Homo sapiens: one gene and its partners. The protein of the gene in region 6 purifies or fractionates together with the protein of the main gene of each other region. This does not show direct contact. Each region holds a gene or a part of one and is shown on either strand. Other genes may lie near its edges.

Region 1 (3,500 bases), on a different chromosome or scaffold from region 6:
CAGAAAACCAAACACCACATGTTCTCACTCATAAGTGGGAGCCCAACAATGAGAACACATGAACACAGGGAAGGGAACATCATACACCTGGGCCTGTCAGGGGGTGGGGGGCAAGGGGAGGGAGAGCATTAGGACAAATGCATGCAGGGTCTAAAACCTAGATGACAGGTTGATAGGTATAGCAGACCACGATGGCACATGTATACCTATGTAACAAACCTGCACGTTCTGTACTGCATCCCAGAACTCAAATTAAAAAAAAAAAAAAAAAAAAAGTCCTGTCATATTCTTGCATCTCATACCAAAGGGAGTTAATAGTAAGCTCTTTCCTCTCTCTTCTCAACATCAAGCCTCCAGCTCCAAATTAGACAAACCCCCACGTAGGAACAAACACTTGGACTGAGAAACCCATGACCATCTTCCTCAAAATTCCACATGCAACTGGGCCACTTAGCTACTGCCTTATACAGTTAAAAGATTCAGTGTTAAGCCATTTATAAAACTTCAGCCAGGTACTGCAGTGTGCACCAGTAACATTAGTGACTCAGGAGTCTCAGGCTGGAGGATCCCTTGAGTCCAGGAGCTCGAAATCAGTCTGAGCAACACAGCAAGACCCCATCTTTGAAAAACAAAAACAAAAAACTATGCCACTACTGTTTTCCAAAGCATGATCCAAGGCACTGGCCCTGAAAATACACGTTGAATATCCTTTATCCAAAATGCTTGGGACCGAAAGTGTTTTGGATTTTTTTTTTTTTCCACTTTGGAATATCTGCATCACACTCACTGACTCAAAGTCCCTAATCTGGAAATCCCGAATCAGCATTTTTTTGTGTTATGTCGGTGCTCAAAGTTTCAGATTTTGGAGCATTTCGGATTAGGGATGCTCAACCTGTACTCTAAGAAAAAGGATTGAGGAACAGTTCTATATTCACCTCTGCACTGTAAGGCCAGCAAAGGAATTTGGAATGCCCACAGGCACATAAGTCTTGTTTGAACACTGTGATCTACAGTCCTTCTAGAAGGGAGAATTCAGAATTAAATACAGCAGTGTTCTAGGAATTGCTCAGGATTCTCACTGGAGAAATTTTCATTTATGAAAAAAAATGGAGTCATGCAACACAAGTAATTGATATCTTAAATCAAAGTGTCCTTTTAAAATTCTGCTTTAATCACTTAGGGAGGAAGCCCTTTAAATAAAGTAGACCAACCTTCAAAACACAGGGCAACCCATTATTTTCTGCCTCTTCTCTTGCCAGCAGAGCTTTCGTTACCCTTCAAGTAAGTTAAATTCACACCTCTTTATAACTGAGCATCTTTATCCACTGGCACAATTTCAAAGTACTCTGCCCTAAGTATTGCAATTAGTGTTAGGTATTTTATGTATCATTTGATACTCTTCCAAACATTTTATTGGACATTCCACCCAACGACACAGTGTGTGGGATTTTAGTATCATTAGCACCTTCATGGAGAGGGAAAAATTAAGGTGTGTGTAAAACTACCCAGAGTCAAGTCAGTTCAGGAATCTAGAACATGCTACTGGCTCTTACCAGCTCCTTTTGAATCTGTGGCTTAGCACGTAAACACATTTATCACCAGTATCACCACTAGCTAGCTCGGTGGCTCCTTCCGGAACACAGATGACAGTGTCAATTTAATGAAACCCAGGCCCACCACACCTCAGGGCCGCAGGGTTGTTTTTCCTGGGGTCTGGAAAAGTGCCTAGCTGTAAGGGTTTTAAAGAGCATTTGTGCATGGTTTACATACGTGGTTCGCAGATTCAATTGAGGAGGTTTTCTGACTTTTCAAAAGAACTGAGTCTATACCATGAAATGGTGGTCGGAGCCACAGTGCACACCAGCAGGCTTAGGTTACAACTGCAGTGAAATAGTGAATTAAAACACCTGGAATATGCAGACTCCAAAAACTAAACTAAGAACTTTATTGACGTTTTTAAACAGATGCTAGTAACTTTATAACTAATCCTTATCTGTGAAAGGTTAGCATAACCATGGTGATCGCAATTATAAAGCCCATAATCTCCAATCTTCTGGGTATGAAATCCAAAATCAAAAGCTCTAACTTTTTAAAGCTATTAGAGAACACAGCATTTTAATCTTTATCTCCTGAGAAGGTAGCTAAGGCCTGAAACTACCAATTCAAACAAAACGGAGTAAATTACATACTAAGGGGATGAGAAGATTCCCAATTGGTAACTCCTCCACTGCAAATGCAAAAGTGACTTTCTTAAAAAAAAAAAAAAAAAGACACATTGACTGACTACTGGTTATTAAATTAGAATGTCTCATGCGGGGCTTCAGATTACTTGAAAAAGTACCCCTCTCTTGTTAGCCAGGATGGGGGTCACTCCTAGCGCCTTGATTATGGAGTCAATTTCTTAAACAGCTGTCATCCCTTCCAAAGCATTTTAAATACTGAACTACCCAATGAGAACTAGATGAGGATTACAGATATGAAGTAGAAACTAAAATCTTACCATATGCTACCTCCATAGGTTTAAGGAAATCGGTATAACTTGGAAACTACAATCTAAAAAGAATCATTGTGGTTTACTCAATTTTTTAATGGCAAGCCCACAAAACTAATTCCCGGCAACATGAGGTTATTCAGCCTGGAGTCATATAGAGCATAACCTGTGCAATTAAGAATCTTTTGCAGAGTTGGGAAAAGAGCATTTAAAAAAAAAATCACAAAGCAAAAGCGCATGCCAAAGGAAGGCAATGCCAACAAGGGATCTCCCGGAAGCAGCCCATAAAATATTTTCAAACACAATTAACGCATGAGAATTCCTATGTAAAGCACACAAAAAAGTCTTCTCCAAAGCTGTCAAATCCTGAGTCCAGGTGCTTCCTGGCTACCGGGAAGCACAAGGAATATACTGGGGGAAGAGGAAAAACCGGGTAGAAATTGACCTTGTATGTGTTGATACAGAGTTTAGACTTCATCCATGGGGTAATAGGGACCCACGGAAGAGTTTTTAAATGGGAAAAGGGACAGGGATCCTGTTGAGTTCCTAATGATCGGGCCCATCCCCAAACGGAGACAAATGGGGAGACTGTAGCCAGGAAACTAAAGTAAGGAACAGGTGATGAGCAACAAATTTGAGAACATTGGCAGGCAGAAGCCACAGGACTTAATGAGACTGACTAGGCTGACTGGTTGGGCTGAGTGAGGTAGGTGTGCCAAAGGTTTCAGACAAGTTTTTGTTGTTGTTGTTTTAAATAAGGAACCTACTAGAGGAGTTCTCATACTTTAATCAGCAACAGAATTACTGTGAGGCAGATGATTAAAAATGCAAAATCCAGGAACTCACCCCCCTCCACCAACTGTGATTCAGTCCGTGTAGAGTAGGGCCCAAGCATGCATTCCCCACTCCCAGTCATCAGCCCCGAAAGGCTGCATTGTTAAAGCAACAGCGTCTGTGCCTGCGGTGTTATCACAATGGGGGATTAAAGTGTAGTGGGACAGGATAATAA
Region 2 (3,379 bases), on a different chromosome or scaffold from region 6:
GGTCTGTGCAAAGTACACCAAGTGGAAAAAAGTTTAGACAAGAGTTTAGGTTTCAAGATAAATGTTCTGCTCTATTGGCACTGGTTTTAAGTCTTTTGTGCTACTTTTTAGGCATTGCTGTGTAAGTTTTGGTGGTGCGTGGGTACAATGAAGCCAGGAGGGATAGAAAGGGAAATGATGTGTGTGCTGCAGGCTAAACAGGGGCTCTTCCTTATGCCTCATAACCACCTGTGTGTGACAGTTTCACATTTCCTATCAAATTATTATCTTCATTCATTTCTACTTGTGAATGAAGTTCGGAGACTAAGAAAAAGCCAGCTGTTGGAATAGAAAGCACTTTAGGATAAAATGGTCTTGTTAAAATCACCAATTAAAAAGTTAAGCCCCTGATGTACAAATAACTAAAACACATACATACAAAGACAGTGCTTCTTGTTCAATGATTTACTTCACAGCTGATTCATAATCAAATGAACAAGAATCTGCAAGAACAGAACATGGTGGGCAGGGTCCAGTAATTCCAAATGTTGTCATCCTAGCTCTTCCTGAAGCATATTGAATCCTCCAAGTATATCCCGTTGTGCTAACTAGGCTTTAAGTCTTTTGTCTGTAGATTCATTCTCAAAGTTTCTCCCTCAGAACAAAGAGCACGCCATCCTGTAAAGTACTCTTCCTGATTTTTTTTCACCCAATTTCTTAGTTTCTTTCAATTGCTTTTCAGACCCCGGCAGGCAGATTCTGCCCTCATCTGTCCAGTGACACTCTTCTGGCAGATTACTAAAGACCGATTTGTAGACCTGTCCATGTGGCCTCTCTCAACACCATTGGTGTGACCTTGCTCATACTGCCTCTCTCACCACTTAACATTGTCCCTTAGATGTTAAAGGCCCTTATATTAATAGTTTTATTTTAGCTCCTTTACATTTTATTTTGTCCTGAGGAATCTCAGCTACATGCATGGTCTTCAATATATGCCGATAATTCTCATTCACATAGCTCTCCTGTTGGCTTTTCCCCACTCGTTTAAAAACAACCACTTCACTTTGCTGGACTCTACCTTGAATGCCTCATTTTCAGCTCACACTCATGCTGTGCCTTTATTTAGATTTGTTGTGGTTGTTTCCCCACATTCTGGAAGCTCCTTACCTAAATCCTGTTTATTCCTTAATGCTTAGCACAATTTATTACTCTTGTTTCCATGGCACTACATTGTACTTCTGTTTTAGAGACTACCTTCCTCTGAAGCATATGACAGGTTCATTTACTATCCAGCCCACCAAAACTCAGTTTTTGAGCTCCTCTATGTTCATCTTTTTATGGCTAACCCTCACCATCATGAGTGCTTAGTAAATGTTGAGTTGGAATGAATTTATTCCTACAGGTTGCACTTGCTCTCTCACCAAGTGTTCTGGCCAAATAATTCTGGAATGATTTCCTTACCTTAAGGGAGTCTGATCTGGGAAGAGCCTGGGACGTGATGTAACTTCATATGCTGTAGAGCTGAATATTCATTTACTTAAGATCTTAGCTCCATTAGAAAGCAGTGAAAGCAGTGTTAATTCAGAGGCCGGGTATGGTGGCTCACGCCTGTAATCCCAGCACTTTGGGAGGCCAAGATGGGCAGATCACTTAAGGTCAGGAGTTCAAGACCAGCCTGGCCAACATGGCAAAACCCCATCTCTACTAAAAATACAAAAATTAGCCGGGTGTGGTGGCACATGCCTGTGATCCCAGCTACTCGGGAGGGTAAGGCAGGAGGAGGTTACAGTGAGCCAAGATCACACCACTGTACTCCTGGGCAACAGAGTTAAACTGTATCAAAAAAAAAATGCAGTATTGATTTAGAGCTAAGGTCACCTGATGCTCAGGCCAGTAATTTCTCCCTGCATCATGCTGTTGTCTAAGGCAGACACTGTAAAGCTCTACACTGCTGAAAAACTAAGCTTGAGATGCATAAAAGAACACATAGAGATGGGGAGTCAGTTCTCCATACATTTTGTGAGTAGAGGCATTGGTGTTTTGTTCCAAACTATCCAATCGAGAATGTTCATATAATGACAGCTTTGGAAGGTAGAGACTATCTTCCTCTGGATCATAGGACAGGTTTGTTTACTATCTGATACAGTCAAAATAGTGTTTCCCTCTAATGCGAAAGTCAGGCCAGTTTGCTTGTGACCTCATTAGATTTGGGCTGTGACGCAAACCCACTGCATGTGCAGTATCCACCTAGCTTGCCCTGTGTCACTCCCATGGGATCTGTGGCTCAAACTCATGTTGCTTGCTATGTTCTAAATAATTAAGTCTGTTGTCTGACCCAGGAGTCTCATGTCTTCTGCCAGCATTCAGAAAACTAGTTTTCAAGAAGGGTAACATCTTAGACCTTTTACAGCTCTTGACACAGAGCAATATTGAGAAATAAAATCAGGTAAAAGTTATTTAATATAGCAGTTCATAATTTAGGCCATGGATCATCTCTGCAGAGAATCCTACCATGCTGCATTCTTGCTTTAAACCTTTCGCCCTCTAAAACAATGCCCAAGAGCCAATGTTAGTCATGGTCTTCCTGTATTTGCTCTAGGTAAGCTGTTTCATAGCCTTCCAGGACAACACTTGCACAGGTTATCTTTAAGCACCAACAAAAGAAATGGAGAAATTTGAGCCATGTATCCTGAGCTCTGAAAGGCAGCAATCATCTTGACCCCAAGCATACACCATGTTCAGCTTCCTCCCCTTGGCCAGGTACCACAGCTACTTCTATCCCAGTGATCAGCAGGCCCTCCAGCATGAAGACCTTTGAGAAGGATCTATAGCTGTCAACTCCTAATATGATTTGTGCACTATCACCTTGAAGTAAACCAGACTAGTTATTTTCATGCTAAGAGTCTGAAAACAGTGCCTTCTTTCTGATGTCTCTTGTAGAATATTGGCAGAGGGATCTCAATTTTTACTTTATACCTGAAGGGCAGCTTTTTGGTCTGATAGTTATAGTGCAATCATTCATATTTTAAATCACAAATACCCCCACTTGTTGATGAAAACTCCAGTCTGTGGCATGGGTGTACATTCACTGCCTAAACCATCTTTGGCCAAAATTTGTGTGTATATGAAGTCATTCTACTTTAGCATACTCAAAGGCATTCCTTTAAACCATTTATCTGCTTGTACACAATAGCCAAAGGAATATTTGTTACTATGGCTGATGTAATAAACTATCATCACAAATTTAGTGGCTGAAAAAAAACAAAGTTATTCTCTTTTACTTCTGGAGTCCAAATTCATGGGGCCAAAATGAAGGTGTTGGCACTCTGCTCTAGGGCAGGATCCGTTTCTTGCCTTTTCCAGTTTCTGGTAGTTGCCAACATTCTTTGGCTTGTGGCCA
Region 3 (3,500 bases), on a different chromosome or scaffold from region 6:
CTTCAGCCTTAGGACCCAGAGAACACAGAGTGAGAAGTAGGAAATGGCTGTAAGCAGGTGTTCCTGTTTGTCTTCCTGCCATCCTTTCTCCTCTGGGAATTCTTTCTCTTGGCCCTATTGTCCTTGGTGGTCAAATTCCCTGTCGGAGCGACAGACACATGCTCCTGGCAAGCCGATCAGAACATCCTACTTAGCAGTCATTTTTAGTAGGCTAATATAGATACTGGGAAAAGGAGAGTCTCTGTCCTGTTTAGATTAAGGGCTCTAAGTTTGGAACTGTTAATGCTGTGGTCCCATATGGGCTGAGCCTGCTGGGGAATGAAGCCATCATTGAGAAAGCAAATATCAGAGTGACTCAGATAGAGGGATGGTGGGAGGGAGAAAACTGTGGGGATGGGGGAACACTGGACAGAGAGCCAGTTCATGATGTTACTTGAAACCTTAGACCCACCTGACCTGTAAAGCCAGTTTGCAGCCTAAATCAATGAATTACATTTTTGTTTAAGCAGCCATCATTGGGTTCCTGTCTCTTGCAACAGGAAAAGCCCAGCTGTAATGATGACAATAATAACTTTGTGCTTCATCTGCTAATTGAATTTATAACTTAATAGTTAATTGACTGCACTCTCTTTGATGAGCACCTAGGACATATCTGGTATAACAGCCTGTTTGCATATGTTATTGAATAAAAGCATGAATGTTATGCAAACAAAAAAGCACATCTGTATGCAGTGAAGCTTGGTCACCTTGGTGTTTGTAGGAGGCAGGTCAGCAGCTTTCCATAATTGACAGATAAATCTTGGTTACCTGTATCCCCTTCCTCGGTTCCTCATAGTACTTTTTCTTCAGGTCTTGTAGCTTCTGAACAAAGAGACGATAGCCCCCTGGTTTCGAATAAATTCCCGCCTTCACTTCTTCTTCTAGAGGACTGAAAATGACCTGAAGTAAAGCTGAGCAACGATCTGATGATGCTTCCTGATTCTGTTTACAAAAGTCATCCCGCTTTTTTTCTAGCTGGGCCTTTAATGTAAAAATAGGAAGTAAAAAGAGTAACAGGGAAAGGATGTTAGCTTGACCTCAGAATTTTGGGAACGATTTCTGAAAATAGAAGTCAATGATGCTGGAGAAACTGACAGCCTCCTCACCAGGACCACACTCTTCCTTCTGACCCCACTTTCTGCTGAAGTCGCTTTCTTTTTGGAGGTGAGGTTCAGGGCTGAGATTGATAGCTTTATGTCAACTGTTAGAGGAAAACTCTGTTTTTGCATATTGGACTAATGATTTCATATGGAATAAATGTGGCTGAACGGAAGCCTGCTCAAGATAAGTAGGATGAAAATTTTCTTTGTGTTTGGCTAGAATATCAAATCAGTCTGAGAAGAGTGGGCAGGTAATTTTATTAGAAGCTCTGGTTGTCAGTTGTATGCATAAGTAAAGGGAAAATTATTCAGGAAAAAATGTTTTAGAACTTTGGGTCTGTAATAATACAGTTGGTCCTTCTGACTGATGTGATCACAAATCTGTTGTTTTCACCATTATGGAAGCTAGGAGGAATTACTTCCGTCAAAATAAATAATAGTTTTCTTTCCTTGTGGTACTTTAGCTTCTATGACCCTAAACCGTATACATTTGAGACAAAAATTACCGCTAACTCCTTTTGAAATAGATGGTCCACATCTTTGAAGGAACTCCTGATGAAGACTTCAATGGCCTCTCTCTCACTGTCCCTGTGCAGGTCCAGCAGCTCCTGGAGGGTTTCTGTGGGCAGCTGCACCTTCTGGCCCATCTGCTGTTCATAGTGGGCAATAGCCTTTTGCACTGCAGCTGAGTTCTCTATCTGGGCCAAGGCCAGGACTGCGTTCTCCATGCACGGCAGATCCCCACTGCTGATGGCATTGACGTAGGTCAGCACCAGGCTCTCTAGACCTGCATATGAAGAACAAATGATAATGTTTCTGGTGGTAAAGAAAGTCTCTATTCCATGTAATTCTGAGCATGTCAAATACCACCTATTTTCCTCACAGCATCAATGTCCTCAGCATCACTTGGAAGCTTGCTGGAAATAGACTCTCAGACCCTGTCCGAGATCTATTGAATTAGACTTTTGTGTTTGGTAAGATCCTCAGAAGATATGTATGCATACCAACATTTGAGAGTTCTTGTACTAGATTACATAGACTTGTGTTAATTGAATGTTTGCATCCATTTTAACCCCAACCAACATTAGGACAGGAACCATATCTATTTCATTTATATCTGTATCTTCAGTCTATTCATAGTAAGCATTTGATCAATATGTATGAAACAAATGACACTATTCCAATAAAAAAGAGTCATCCATTTAGTTTATTTTATTGCAGTATTGTTCAAAAGCGCTTTCTGTAATGCTGGGAATGTTGTATATGTGCTTTTCAGTGTGCTAGTCACTAAGTACGTGTAAATATTAGTCCTTGAAATACAGGCATGTGAATTGACTTTTAAATTTTCCCTATTTAAATTATTTACATTTATGTTTACATAGACACACTTGTCTAGGGGCTACTCTATTGCATAGTGCAGGTCCAGTTCACTAGGGCAATTTCAAGCAATAGAACTTTTTTCCTTTGGCCTTTTCCTAGACTGGAAATGTGACTAACAATATATGTTAGAAACATTGGTGCCATCTAGAATTTAACACAAATATAGCAGTAGATTGGGATTTTTCAATGCTGAAACTAGGTGGAAGTTATTCTATGCTCCTCTAGTCTTAAACAATGAGCAGAAGTACTAGGAAGGGGACTTACGAGGCCCGTTGACCTGGATGCCTCCTGAAAGAGTTTTAGTTTTGGAATTACTAAAGATGTAGGAACAGAAGTCTGCTACTTGTTGCACAAATTCGGGGTCCAGCTCTTCATCTTGTAGTTTCTCGAGCTGGGCAAGCTTCCTGCGGTGAACGGGCCGATCAAAGACAAAGCATTTTTTCTTTGGGAAGAATTTCCGGATACAGAGTCTGGGCAGGTTAAAAGTTTCATCTTTTTGACTGGTACCTAGAAAAACATTTAAAAAATTATAAAATTGCCTAATATAAGTGTTTCTGTAAAGGGCCAAATAGTAAATATTTTAGGCTCTTCAGGCTGGATGGTCTCTTTTCCAAGTATTCAACTCTGTTATTGAAGCATGACAACAGCTTTAGACAATATGTAAATGAATGGGCATAGCATTATTCCAAAAAAACCTTATTTACAAAGACAGCTGGCAGGCAGGATTTGCCATGATTTGTCTTGGGCTGTAGTTTGCCAATGCTTGGACTAGCACACGGTTCATGTTTTAGTCTATGTTCTTTAAATAAATATCCATTGTACTCCATACTCTATGGCTAAGTAGAAGATCACAAACCCTAGGCAGGGAGATAAAATTAACCTAATCACAGCATACACAAAGGTGAAAGAACAAGAAACTTGTTCTAGAACAATGACAAATGTAATTTAAAATAACATCTATTAATTTGGATATTCAGCAAG
Region 4 (3,500 bases), on a different chromosome or scaffold from region 6:
TAGATATTACACATTCATTTTTAAGTATTAAGAAAATGAGGGCTTTTCAATTGAGGTGAAAGACTATCTTTGAGATAAAGTATCTCTATCTGGCAACGCTGTGGAATACTAACCAGTTGTTCTCACAAAATAACATGCAGGCAAAGCAATTCCAAAAGGCAGAAGTTCATTTCTACTAAATTAATACTATGTAAACATTAAAAACAAGTACAAAAATAAATATTAAATAAAAGTTTTGCTTTTATTTAAAATAAAATGCATTTATACAGTCTTTGAACCATGGATTATTGAACAATACTGGTAATCCACCTCTCCCTCGCACCCTTTTGGGCTATGTGAGCTAGGAATTTTCTGACTAGCACCAATACAGATTGTAACAGCGCAACAGACTAGAACATGGCCAGTCCAGGCATTAGAGTTAAGGACATTGTGGCAAATCATGATCATAATGAAGTCATTCTTAATTTAGTAGATATTAAAACTGCACGTTAATTATATCTCTTAAAGGCATTTAATTAACGCAGAGATTGCTACATTTAAGCCATCTGCTAGTTGTGAGTAGTTTTTAAAAAACTGTACAATTTTATAAAATTTGTGTTTTTACATTAGTTACACAAAATGCATACTTCATAGAACTTTACTTCATATTGTAATGCAAAGAGTTGCATATTTTAGGCAGACAGTGATTATGCTGGTGAATACTAAAAGTGTAATACAATATGGTGTAAAAATAAAAACACGAGACAATATACATAACATGCTTATTCAAGGACAAAAACAAATCAAGCACGACGGACTAATAGCATTTTCCTTCAAGGTCAAACACAATGACATTACTAAATATCAGGCCTCCTGCATGCCTGATTTATTTGGGGGTAGGGGGAGGAATTAAATGGCTACCAGAAGTAGGATATTTTAAAACATGATATCAAATTAAACATACATTAAATCACATGCATTAGACATGATAAATAGAGTTCATATAGGTTAAGCCCTGGATAGCTTTAAAATAGATGGCTTGTTTCTTACAGTTTGGCTAGCTTAAATCAGTAAATCAGTGATGGTTTGTTCCTGATTTGCCCACTATTTCAGTTTTCAATTCATGGCCCTAAGGAATGTGTGACAAATTCAAGTTTATTATATCATAACATGATAGATTAATAGTCGTGCTTGTTTAGTGCACATATTAACTGGTCTGGTAAGGCAAAGAAGTTTTCATGATAAAATGATAAATTTCAAGCTTACTTTATTAAGCAGCATATAACAAACAGCTTTTAAAGTTAAATATTGTTATGGCCGTGGAGTTTCATTAAACAGTATTCCTATTCACACCCAACCACTGGTAAGTTTGTAGAACATCTCTTCATCTAAACTCTCGTTTTGGTCTTTTGCACGTGTTGAGAGAAATATGTAGCCACCAATGAATTCATGAACCACTTTGCAATCTACTTCAGTACAAATGAAGGACAATCGTACTTCATCTGCAAACTCTACGGTGACCTGGAACAAAGACAAGAGCCATCAGTGCTGTCCCAAATGCTAGGTGGCTGGGTCCACACAAAACTACTGTGCTACTTAAAGTCTGTCATATCACAAAACACTTGTTGATCCTCAAATGATCAGTCTGTCTAAAACCTAAACGAATAATGCCTTTAAGTCCCAAAGAAGAAGCTAAGTTTATTGCCCTTCCCCTACACTTTAAGTTTTCATGTTCTGAAAAGGAAGACTAGGAATGCAAGGGTTTTAGGTCGTTCAGTTCTCAAATGGTCTCTGGTGATTGATTCAATTAATGAGAATGCCTCTCTTCAAGTCGTGCAGGAAAGCCTACTTCCTGTGTTTTAACGTTCGCTTCAGATACTTAAATTTTAGGTATCACGTTTGAGTATTTCAGAAATATAAGATTCTTTGAAGTAATAGGAATTGATACAATAAATCCAATATGATGCTAAACCAAATGACTTATTAGTAAAAGATGGTTCATTTTAAATGATACTCGTATACTCCAAGACTGGGGGCAACATGATGTACAGTGGTAAATGTGCCAGGTTTTTAAGCCTAAAGCATCTGAGTTTGAAATGATTCTGTAGTTACTTTGTGCGTGGTCATAGACAATGATGGCCCTCAGGTCTCTCTATTGCAGTGTCTTCATTTGTCCAACTGCCTTAAAAGGCTGTGATGAGGTTTAGAGACAGGGTACTAATGTAAGCCTCTAAGTATCATGTCTGGCACAGGGTAGGCATTCAACAAACAGTAGCTGCTATTTCAGAGTAGATCGGCTTTATCCATTACAGAAAGACAAAAAAGGCAACATTCTAAGCAAATTATGCACTTAGAATTTTAGTAACTGGGCTAATTATGAAATAGGCAAATTTAAGTGAGAAATGAATAGTCAACCATGGTCTGTCTGTACTTTAAGAGGTGGTGGTACAAATAATCATCAGAATTTATAGGCCTTTTTATTCTTAATGTACTAATTTGTATCAGAGAAGGACTATATTCAAGTAACATTGTTATGAGTTTACCATTTTGATTTCCCAGTTGACATTCCACTGTTTCATGTTGCTGAAACGCCATGTTTTAATTGCATCTCCAGTGCTGGCATCCATCCGAATCAGTCTGTTGTATGCAATTCCAATAAGTTCTTCTTTTTTGCCCCCTTGGAACCTATAACATTTAAGAAAAGAACGGTTAAAAACATGTTGTGGGGGAACATGTTGGACTGCTTTTCTTCAAGATAAGTGTTCTCTCTAACCCTAAAAGAGTACTATTCTTTTTTTTTTTTTTTGAGACGGAGTCTTGCTCTGTTGCCCAGGCTGGAGTGCAGTGGCGCGATCTCAGCTCACTGCAAGCTCCGCCTCCTGGGTTCACGCCATTCTCCTGCCTCAGCCTCCCGAGTAGCTGGGACTACAGGCGCCCACCACCATGCCCCACTAATTTTTTGTATTTTTAGTAGAGACAGGGTTTCACCGTGTTAGCCAGGATGGTCTCTATCTCCTGACCTCGTGATCCACCCACCTCGGCCTCCCACAGTGCTGCGATTACAGGCGTGAGCCACCGTGCCTGGCCAAGAGTGCTATTCTCTTAGTAGTAAAACAAACACAATTATCTTGAATTTTTAATGTAGAAATTAAAAGCTTACAAAATACATTCTAACAGTCTTTGAATTCTATTGTAATATGAGTTAATGGGTCTACATAGGTATGCTTTAGATGTTTAATATCTAATTACATGAGGTAGATTAAGCAAAAATGCAGATTAAGGTTTACACATAGATGCTTAGAACCACTGACCTTGCAATGAAGTGAGTGATGCCAAATTCAGGTAGTGACTGCCAAGCTTGAATAAATCTCATCTTGGCTTCAATTAGACTCATCTGAGCTACATTCTGATGGGCCTCCAAGATTCTCGCTGTTATCTAAACATGAGTAAACATCACCTTTACCATTGAACATTATTCTCTCATGGGAGAACTGAGACAAAAGATCAAAAGATTGAATTAC
Region 5 (3,500 bases), on a different chromosome or scaffold from region 6:
ACCCACTCTGGACCACTCTCACCCTTGGTGGACTCCCTCTTCATACCTCTTGGACTCTAACATCCTGCTCCATACTACCTATTACCCTTTCCCCTCCATTTCTGGTCACCTACCTTGCTCTGTCCCACCTAATGACTTCAGGATGAATTTTTCAGGAAAGCAAGGGAAAGGGGACTTCCTTATATTTGTATGGATACATTCCATGTCCTAGTGTCCAAGTGTAATTATGGGCAGCATATTCATGGTTTTGTAACCTCATTTTGTTTTTTAATTTTGGTATCTGTTAGTTTGCTAGAGCTGCAGTAACAGAGCACTACAAACTGAGTGACTTAAATAATAGAAATTGTTAAACAGCAGAATATTGTCTCACAGTTCTGGAGGCCAGAAATCTGAAAAATCAAGGCATGGGCAGAGCCATGCTCCCTCTGAAGGCATTAGGGAAAGGTCTCTTCCAGCCCTGTCTCCTAGCTGCTGATAATCCTGTGGCTTGTGGCAGCAAAACTCCAATCTTCATGTGGCATTATCTTAACTAATTACATCTGCAGTGACCCGATTTCCAAACAGGTTCACATTCTGAGGTACTCGGGGCTAGGACTTCAACATACAAATTCTGTGGAGATGTAATTCAACACATTACAGATGCCCAGGTATCCAACTTCAGTCATTTGGCATTTTACTCTGATGTAGCTTGAATACTTGGAAACATACATTTTCTATATTTTCCATGTTTCTATGACAGTTTTTTAAATATGGTACCTAGCTGATATTAGTTATTATCCAAAATACCCTGTTTTACCTAATGGGATTATTTTTTCCCATTTTTACTATGAAGTATTTGATGCCCACTGAAGCGTGTATGTAATATAGCCCTGAGATACAAACCATAGTAATGAAACAAATATGTTCCCACAACCCAACTTAAAAATGAAACATTACAGATGTCTGTACTTTTTGAATTTGTTTTCATTTTTAAGGGATTACATTGAAATTAACAATAAATTTGATGTGCTAACATCACTGTGTTCTGATAAGGAGGGCTGGAACAAGTTATTTAACCTCTATAAATCTCTCTTACCTCTCTATAGATAGGAATACTTATGGTACCTTCCTTACAGGGTTACTGTGAACATTAAATGAGATAATATACATAAAAGCAGTATTAGAACATAAATGCATAATAAATACCAAGTTTATTATTCAGTAGAAAGAGAAATTAATTGGCATTTTTTTCTTTAAGTAGAAAGTATTCTGGAATGCCATTTTTCCGCCTAATCATAGTTCTTAGTGTTTCTTCATTACTTTTACTTTTACAGTTTTATCAAGATCACACATAACACATCTGCATAATTACAATTTGAGTCTCATAAACAAAATTATGCCTGAGAGAGTATTTATCTCTATGTTTATATGTAGCTTGTAATGGTAGTTTCTTCTATGTTTTTAATACATAAAGGGATTCCTTGTATTTAAAAGTCTCAAATTCCAAAGATGGAATGTCAAAGAATAATTTCAGTCTAAATTCATTTGTATGTCTTTAGGATATTGTTTTATTTTGTAGCAAATGACTACATATGATTATTTTCTACACTAGAAGGCAAAAATCACCAGGTCTTGCCTATTTTGTTAATATGAATTAAATTATGTCTTTGTAAAATGTCTTTTCTTTCATTCAGATCCCCTTGGAAAGGACTTCCAGAACTGACCAATGAGAATGCCCAGTACTGTCCTTTCAGCTGTGAAACACAAGCCTGGTCAATTGCTACTATTCTTGAGACACTTTATGATTTATAGTTTATTACAGATATTAAGTATGCAATTACTTGTATTATAGGATGCAAGGTCATCATATGTAAATGCCTTATATGCACAGGCTCAAGTTGTTTTAAAAATCTCATTTATTATAATATTGATGCTCAATTAGGTAAGATTGTAAAAGCATTGATTTTTTTTAATGTACAGAGGTAGATTTCAATTTGAATCAGAAAGAAATATCATTACCAATGAAATGTGTTTGAGTTCAGTAAGAATTATTCAAATGCCTAGAAATCCATAGTTTGGAAAAGAAAAATCATGTCATCTTCTATTTGTACAGAAATGAAAATAAAATATGAAAATAATGAAAGAAATGAAAAGATAGCTTTTAATTGTGGTATATATAATCTTCAGTAACAATACATACTGAATACGCTGTGGTTCATTAATATTAACACCACGTACTATAGTATTCTTAATACAGTGCTCACTGCATTTAATAAATATTTAATAAATGATGAATGATAGAAGTTTCCATCTACAATATATGTTCCTAAATGGAGCACAGATGTTCAAACTATGCTTTCATTTTTTCACTGATATATTAATTTTTGTGTAATGAATGCCAACAGTATATTTTATATGATTTACTTATGTGAGGAAACATGCAAAGCATTAGGAAATTTATTTCCTAAAAACAGTTTTGTAAAATTAGTATTGAGTTCTATTGAGTATTATAAGATAGCTTACATTTTCAAAATGGAAATTGTCGGTCATATTTCTAGAACTTTAAAGAAAAAAGAATGTTATATTAGTTTTCTAAAACTCAACTATCTTTAGTCATGTTCAAAAATCTATTGCTAGATCATAGTAGATACTGGTTTTCTATTAACTCAAAACCTACATTGACAAGTTTAACATTGAGAAGAATCTTAACAAAAATATGGATATGAATTCAGTAGATATCTTAAATTCAATAAAATCACTGGAAGTTTTTCATGATAACTTATTTTAAGATGCCTTAAAAATCTTAAAGTCACAAAAGGAAAAAGGTTTTTAACATTTACATGAGTTAACATTTTTTCATAGAACTTATTTCCTAGATAGAATTTTTTACTGTTTTTTACTGTTTTCTTAAGAAAACAGTTAAATCATTATGCATTCAGTTGGAAGAAAGTAGTGGCAAGAATTCTTTCATTGCTATATAATATTCAGTGGCTCATTTATACCTAATAAAATAATGGTATTTTAAAATAATGCTACTTTCAAAGTAGCATTTTTTTAGTTAGTTTACAGGTTACATACCCAAAACCTTAACTATGACTAAGAAATTAAAGAAGAAAACCAGCAAACTAAAACTTCTGGGCAGCAAAAATATATAAATGCTTCAGATGTCAAATACCCATGCTTGAAAGCTCGTGTAATTTACTTTAAGATTATCTGCCTGCTCTTCTTCAAAGCTGACCTTGCTTTAGAAATAGTTTTAACTAGCTTAGTTTTCTGGTTTCCAAAACTAAAATAGATTAAATCCTACAAATTTAAGGACAGTTGTGACAGTAATCTGACCACTATCTATAAATACATTGGACATTGGTTTCCAAATCTCCCTTTCTTCTTCAGTTCCTTCCTTGTTCAATATATACCCTTCTCTAAACTGTGCGGGTAAAAGGAATGACTGTCCTTGAGAGAACCATTAGTTTATCAAAGGTTTATGTAGTTTTGTTGCTGTACCCTAACTTTGATATTCA
Region 6 (3,257 bases):
GGACATCTCCCTCCCGACCTCAGAGCCCCAGCTTCCAAGGTCCTTGCTTTTCTGTTGTTTTCTTTCCCTGATGCCCATTTTTCCCTTTTGGACTGCCACACTCTGGTATTGCAGAGGGCCGCGGGGTGAAGATTGCCCGTGCCCTGGTGGGCACCTTCATGTCAGCACTGGAGATGCCTGGCATTTCTCTCACCCTCCTGCTGGTGGATGAGCCTCTCCTGAAACTGATAGGTGAGACTTGGAACCTGGGGTCACCCAAGCCAGGGCTCCTTGTAACTGGAAGGAGCCAGGGAGACTTGGAGACCCCGTCAGGGCTGACCGTGACAATCAGGGCTCTGGAGCCTGTGAAGAAGGCTCTTCCTGGGCTTCTCCAGCCTTCTCCAGCTCTCACTGGACTAGAAGGAGTTGGTATTAGGATCCTCCTCAGAGAGGCCTGACCCTTTCCCAGGGACCCTCTCTCCATACCCCTGTATACAGTAGGCACTCAGTCCATGCTTGTCGAGGTGGACTCCCTTCCTCCAGGGCTGCTGAGAAAGCCAGGCCACCAGGGTCAGGATGGGAGGGTCCAAGCCCTGCTGAATCCCTGGCTGGACAGCCGTGTCTAAGAGAGTTATCTTGCTGCCCTTAGATGCTGAAACCACTGCAGCAGCCTGGCCTAACGTGGCTGCAGTCTCCATTACTGGGCGGAAGCGGAGCCGGGTAGCCCCTGCCGAGCCCCAGGAGGCCCCTGATTCCACTGCTGCAGGAGGTACCAACCCCTGCCTTTGGGGAAGGGACAGGCTTCCCAAAGGATGCAGGAGTATACGGTGGGGCGGGTAGGGGCCCTGGCACCCACACCTCCCACCATAGTCAAGTGTGGTTGTGAGAAGGGCCTGGTGGGCCTGTTCTTCAGCATCCTCCCTTTCTAGGCTCAGCCTCGAAGCGGATGGCGCTGGTGCTGGAACGGGTGTGCAGCACTCTCCTGGGCCTGGAGGAACACCTGAATGCCCTGGACCGGGCTGCTGGTGACGGCGACTGTGGCACCACCCACAGCCGTGCGGCCAGAGGTTGGTGCCAGGGACTTTGCCAAGTGAGGTCATTCACAAAACCTTAGCCCCCCTTCCACTTGTTTCCCTGAAGGCAGGGACCTTCCTTTTTTTTTTTTTTTTTTTTTAAGAAGGAATCTCACTCTGTCGCTAGGCTGGAGTATGCAATGGTGTGATCTCGGCTCACTGCAGTCTCCGCCCCCCGGGTTCAAGTGATTTTCCTGCCTCAGCCTCCTGACTAGCTGAGATAACAGGCATGCGCCACCACGCCTGGCTAATTGTTGTGTTTTTAGTGGAGACGGGGTCTCGCCATGTTGGCCAGGCTGGTCTCTAACTCCCCACCTCAAGCCATCCGCTCGCCCTGGCCTCCCAAAGTGCTGAGATTACAGGCATGAGCCACCACACCCGGCCGACAGGGACCTTCTTAACACCACAAATGTATGAGGTTGTTATCTTAGAATTAAATGAAATCCTTCACAGTGAATAACTTACAACTCAAGGCGAACTTATTCTGTTGTCCTTATTTTTCTCAGTTTACCCAGACCAGTGAAAAGCTCTTAACTGTCCAGCATCATTCATTCGAGAAAAAGGTATTTGGTGCCTGCCGTGGGGCAGGCACTGCTCTCAGCTGTGGATACAGTAGTGAACAGAGCAGACAGAAATCACTGCCCTCATGGCTTATGTTCTAGGTGGAAGACAGTCAACCAGATAAATCAGTAAAACACAGAGGATGTTAGCACAAAGGGCTAAGGAGAAAAAAACCAAGCCAGGGAGCAGAGTACAGAGCGTCAAGTGGAGGGCTTCGGGGCAGGCCTCACCTCCCCAGGCCCCTTTCGGTTACGCAGCCCAGCCCCTCTCCAGACTGCACACTGGATGTGGAAAGGGATCTTGGGAAGCCTTCATTCCACTTCCCTGTCGGCCTTTTCCAGCCTTCATTGGTGCTGGCTGGAAGTCTGGCAGATGGAGGGAGGATCTCTGAATTCCTCCCCATCTCTCTCTGCCTGCAGCAATCCAGGAGTGGCTGAAGGAGGGCCCACCCCCTGCCAGCCCTGCCCAGCTGCTCTCCAAGTTGTCTGTCCTGCTCCTGGAGAAGATGGGAGGCTCATCTGGGGCGGTGGGTGCCTGGGGGCTGAAGGGCTGACAGGGAGGTGGCTGGGCTGGCTGGGGTCCAGGCCAGCACCACATGCTCAGCGTTGTCATCTTCCCCAGCTCTATGGCCTGTTCCTGACTGCGGCTGCACAGCCCCTGAAGGCCAAGACCAGCCTCCCAGCCTGGTCTGCTGCCATGGATGCCGGCCTGGAAGCCATGCAGAAGTGAGCCAGAGCCCTGTGCATCAGACCAGGGGTGGGCTGGGGGAGGTGTTTGGTGACATCTGCGCCCTGCCAGGCCCTAGCCCAACCCTCAGAGTGATTCCCTTGGTTCCCTATAGTGAGCCTCTTTCACTCTCTTTCCCTGCCAGGTATGGCAAGGCTGCTCCAGGGGACAGGACTATGGTATGTACTCAGGCTGTGGCCTCAGACCTTTCTCCTTTTGGCCCTGTAAGTCTAAAGAGCACCCTCGGTTGCAGGGCCCGTGCTCAGCCCCCTTTCCTTCACCTTGTCCAGCTGGATTCTCTGTGGGCAGCGGGGCAGGAGCTCCAAGCCTGGAAGAGCCCAGGAGCTGATCTGTTACAAGTCCTGACCAAAGCAGTCAAGGTGAGTGAGGCTGGGCCCAGCCACCTGGGGAGACAGGCTTCTAGCCAGCAGACTCCTGTCTCCATGTGACCCTGAGCAAGTTAATAACCTTCCTGGACCGCAGTTTCCTTCTCTGTACAATGGAGATGAGCACCTATCTCAGAAGGTGGTTATGTGGCTAAGGAAATATGTAGAGCCCCGCACACTGCCTGGGATGTGACAGGGCCTCAGTGAATGGTGACCCTTTTCCCTGCTGGAAGTAGATGAGAAGTGACTTTCCATTTGGTGACAGAGCAGAGGGTGCTGGCAGAGCCAGGGCAAGGGCGTGCAGGGCCAGGCTGCACGGCAGAGACGTTCTGCCCATGGCAGGAAGGAGGCGGCCTGGTGATCTGCCCTTGAACCTGCTCCCACACCCCATCCCCCAGAGTGCCGAAGCTGCAGCCGAGGCCACCAAGAATATGGAAGCTGGAGCCGGAAGAGCCAGTTATATCAGCTCAGCACGGCTGGAGCAGCCAGACCCCGGGGCGGTGGCAGCTGCTGCCATCCTCCGGGCCATCTT
Region 7 (3,500 bases), on a different chromosome or scaffold from region 6:
ACCGTGTTAGCCAGGATGGTCTCAATCTCCTGACCTCATGATCCGCCCGCCTCGGCCTCCCAAAGTGCTAGGATTACAGGCGTGAGCCACCGCGCCCGGCTGGAAGCTATTCTTTTGTTGTTGTTGTTGTTGTTGTGTCACTATGTTAACCAGACTGGAATGCAGTAGATACTCACAGGTGCAATCATAGTAGACTATGATAGCATTGCCCAGGCTAGACTCAAACTCTTGGACTCAAGCAATCTCTTGCCTCAGCTCTTGAGTAGGTGGGACTACAGGCACATACCACCATGCCTGGCTCCTTTAGTATTTCTTGTAGTGTAGGTGTGCAGGCAATTCATTTTCCTTCATCTAAAAATGGCTCTTCACTTTCACTCTTGTTTTTTTTTTTTTTGAGACAGAGTCTCACTCTGTTGCCCAGACTGGAGTGCAGTGGCATGATCTTTTTTTAACTTTTTGCTACAATTTGCTAAGGTGTAATTTTTCCCTTGTCTATCTTGGTCTTTGAACTTCTTTTCACACCAAATGTGGAAATTTTCTTCAGTTTTTTTCTGCCCCATTCTCTCTCTTCCTTATGTATGAGATTCCTATTCCATGCATGCTAGTCCTATTTATTTTGTCCTGCAGACCACCAAGGCTCTGTTCATTTATATTTTATTTTTTTGAGACGGAGTTTCATTCTTGTTGCTCAGGCTGGAGTGCAATGGCGTGATCTCAGCTCAACGCAACCTCCGCCTCCCAGGTTCAAGCGATTCTCCTGCCTCAGCCTCCCGAGTAGCTGGGATTACAGGCATGCGCCACCAGCCTGGCTAATTTTGTATTTTTAGTAGAGATGGAGTTTCTCCATGTTGGTCATGTGGGTCTCAAACTCCCGACCTCAGGTGATCTGCCTGCATTGACCTCCCAAAGTGCTGGGATTACAGGCATGAGCCACCACACCTGGCCTATTTTTTAATTTAATTTAATTTAATTTAATTTTTTGAGACAGAGTTTTGTTTGTTACCCAGGCTGGAGCGCAATGGTGTGATCTCAGCTTGCTGCAACCTCCACCTCCTGGGTTCAAGCTATTCTTCTGCCTCAGCCTCCCAAGTAGTTGGGATTACAGGCATGGGCCACCACATCCAGCTCATTTTTGTATTTTTAGTAGAGACAGGGTTTCCCCATGTTGGCCAGGCTGGTCTTGAACTCCTGACCTCAGATGATCTACCCGGCTTGGCCTCCCAAAGTGCTGGGATTACAAGCGTGAGCTACCGTGCCTGGCCTGTTCATTTATTCTTCATTATTTTTCTCTGTGTTCTTCAGGTCGTGTATATGATCTATCTTCAAACTTCCTGACCCTTTTTCTTCTGTCTCCAAGATGCTGTTAAGGCCATTCAGAATTTTTTTTTCTTTTTTTTTAGAGATGAGGTCTAACTATGTTGCTCAGCCTAGTCTCAAACCCCCAGCCTCAAGTGATCCTCCCACCTCAGCCTCCCAAGGTGCTGGGATTACAGGTGCGAGCCACCATGCCCGGCCCCATCCCAGTGAATTCTTAATTTCAGATTGTGTACTTTGCAAGTTCTAGAATTTCTATTTGGTTCTTGTTTATATTTTTTCCTTTTACTCCTGAGATGTCCACATCTATTCCTCTATGAAGATTATATTTTCCTTTGTATCTTTAAACATATGTAAAATAGAGCCTTTAAGATCCTCATCTGATAATTCTAGTATTGCAGGGTCTGTTGACTGTTGTGGTTTTTTTCCACCCTGGTTGTAAGCTATATTTTCCTAATTCTTTGTGTATCTAGAAAGTTCTCATTGCATGCTGAACATTATAGTTGCTACATAACTGGACATAGAGATTTTATTATCTTTAGAGAATATATTGAGTTTTGTTTCCACAAGCAGTCAAAATACTGGCAAATCACCTTGATCCTTTTGAGGCTTGTTTTTAAGCTTATTAGTTTGGGTCTAGAGTAGCTTTTACTCTATGGCTTTGGCCCTACCCCTAAACTGTGGTCTTTCTGAGATGTCAATGGAGTGTCCAAGGAGTTCAGTAAGGTTTCCACTCGCTTGTCCAGAACTTTTATCTCCTAGTAATCTATAAAATCTCCAGTTCACCTCTCCTTTGCAGCTCTTTTCTACTAGGCCTTGTAAGCTGTTATCTACAAGCTTAGTATTTGATCAAAGACTTAAGGGGAACCTTTTGCAGATTTCTGGAGCTCTTTTTTTCTTCTCCCCCTTATTCTGCCCCACAAACTCCAGCCATCTCAGAAGCCCCAAATTCTCTGCTTCTTCAGATCACTGAGACCACTGTTTCCAGCTTAGGCTCTGCCTCTCCATAACACAGTTTGGGAAGTGCCCTGGGTAGAGACAGTGACAGTGGGGTTTTCCCTTCTCTCAAGGATCTCAGTCTTACATGAGTATTAGTCAAAACCTGACATACATAAAACAGTGGCTTTATATATTTTCACAAGTTTTATGCTTGTTTATAGTAGGAAATCTAATCTTTGTCAATTACTCCATCATGACCTGAGCCTTTTTTCTTTTCTTTTTTTCTAAAGAAGAGCAATTTATTTTCTTACAGTTCTGGAGGCTGGAAGAGTACCATTCAATCCACAGTACACCTTGGAAAGGGCTCGGGATCTGAATTTTTAATGACCACCTCTAGTTATGGTTGAGGCAGTTGGTCACACAGTGTCTTCCATTGTCTGCCTGTGTTTTTATAGCCTTCTCTGTTGTGGCTGTAAGTCGAGAAGTGGTCAAGATGCCTTGAGCTTCTCATTGCTTCCCATATCCCTAAGCCCTTCCTTCCTTCCTAGCATTCATGCACACAGTTCCCTCTTGGAATCTTGTACTTTTCCCCATTACCTTTTTCACATATTTATGTGTTACATAAAACCAGAGCCATTGCTGCATGCATTTGAGCAAGGTGCTTAACTTCTCAGGGTTTGATTCTTTAACTCTAAAATGTCTATTCTGTTTCTTAAGTTTTACATGTATACTAAAGACAAGAGTGCTTTTGATTTCCCAGTTGCTTTGCCATTAAACTTAGACCACAGGACCCTTCAGCATGAATGACCAATAACCCAATTGTGTAGTACAAAAAGTACAGCTAGGTACCAAAAAAACAACTGGTTTATCTCTGTCACTACCTCTGCCACAGAAGCACTATTTGTGGGCCCTGTTTCTTCATTTGGTAAAATGAGGGGTTGATCCAGAAGAACTCTGAGGTACTTCCCACTTCTAACATTCTCTGATAATCAAGAGTTCACAAAGAAGAGAATACTTACTTCACTTCAGTTAATCAAAGAAGAGATATAAAAATCCTTAAGACAGTCTCTGGCCATAAGGACGAAAGCACCTAAGAAGCAGATTAGTATATGGTCTTTTTAACCTTTTTAAAGCTAATACAGTTTCAGCCATGTCTGCCTTACCTGTAATACCCATATGACAGTTGTGAAATGCATCTGTAAGACCATCACAGAGTATACTGTCAGTCAGTGGCATCTCACCTATCT

What was found.
Region 1: the proteins of TKFC (region 6) and SMS fractionate together in Homo sapiens (co-fractionation; one large-scale study listed by BioGRID). This does not show direct contact.
Region 2: the proteins of TKFC (region 6) and NIT2 fractionate together in Homo sapiens (co-fractionation; one large-scale study listed by BioGRID). This does not show direct contact.
Region 3: the proteins of TKFC (region 6) and GBP1 fractionate together in Homo sapiens (co-fractionation; one large-scale study listed by BioGRID). This does not show direct contact.
Region 4: the proteins of TKFC (region 6) and FERMT2 fractionate together in Homo sapiens (co-fractionation; one large-scale study listed by BioGRID). This does not show direct contact.
Region 5: the proteins of TKFC (region 6) and AGL fractionate together in Homo sapiens (co-fractionation; one large-scale study listed by BioGRID). This does not show direct contact.
Region 7: the proteins of TKFC (region 6) and ACAT2 fractionate together in Homo sapiens (co-fractionation; one large-scale study listed by BioGRID). This does not show direct contact.

What each region holds. Positions count from the first base shown.
Region 1 is NC_000023.11:21,947,209-21,950,708, reverse strand, and holds part of SMS (spermine synthase), read right to left. Parts: intron 1-3,500. UniProt on the Homo sapiens protein: Catalyzes the production of spermine from spermidine and decarboxylated S-adenosylmethionine (dcSAM).
Region 2 is NC_000003.12:100,358,757-100,362,135, forward strand, and holds the end of NIT2 (omega-amidase NIT2), read left to right. Parts: 3' UTR 1-2,879; downstream 2,880-3,379. UniProt on the Homo sapiens protein: Has omega-amidase activity. The role of omega-amidase is to remove potentially toxic intermediates by converting 2-oxoglutaramate and 2-oxosuccinamate to biologically useful 2-oxoglutarate and oxaloacetate, respectively.
Region 3 is NC_000001.11:89,055,209-89,058,708, forward strand, and holds part of GBP1 (guanylate-binding protein 1), read right to left. Parts: intron 3,027-3,500; coding exon 2,784-3,026; intron 1,927-2,783; coding exon 1,646-1,926; intron 1,021-1,645; coding exon 808-1,020; intron 8-807; coding exon 1-7.
Region 4 is NC_000014.9:52,857,051-52,860,550, forward strand, and holds the end of FERMT2 (fermitin family homolog 2), read right to left. Parts: intron 3,416-3,500; coding exon 3,291-3,415; intron 2,665-3,290; coding exon 2,523-2,664; coding exon of another isoform or gene 2,511-2,522; exon of another isoform or gene 2,256-2,510; intron 1,501-2,255; coding exon 1,327-1,500; 3' UTR 223-1,326; downstream 1-222. UniProt on the Homo sapiens protein: Scaffolding protein that enhances integrin activation mediated by TLN1 and/or TLN2, but activates integrins only weakly by itself. Binds to membranes enriched in phosphoinositides.
Region 5 is NC_000001.11:99,919,861-99,923,360, forward strand, and holds part of AGL (glycogen debranching enzyme), read left to right. Parts: intron 1-1,673; coding exon 1,674-1,791; 3' UTR 1,792-3,500. UniProt on the Homo sapiens protein: Multifunctional enzyme acting as 1,4-alpha-D-glucan:1,4-alpha-D-glucan 4-alpha-D-glycosyltransferase and amylo-1,6-glucosidase in glycogen degradation.
Region 6 is NC_000011.10:61,343,228-61,346,484, forward strand, and holds part of TKFC (triokinase/FMN cyclase), read left to right. Parts: intron 1-114; coding exon 115-231; intron 232-628; coding exon 629-748; intron 749-908; coding exon 909-1,046; intron 1,047-2,032; coding exon 2,033-2,139; intron 2,140-2,234; coding exon 2,235-2,338; intron 2,339-2,484; coding exon 2,485-2,518; intron 2,519-2,629; coding exon 2,630-2,719; intron 2,720-3,067; coding exon of another isoform or gene 3,068-3,097; exon of another isoform or gene 3,098-3,123; coding exon 3,124-3,257.
Region 7 is NC_000006.12:159,768,545-159,772,044, reverse strand, and holds part of ACAT2 (acetyl-CoA acetyltransferase, cytosolic), read right to left. Parts: coding exon 3,417-3,500; intron 1-3,416. UniProt on the Homo sapiens protein: Involved in the biosynthetic pathway of cholesterol.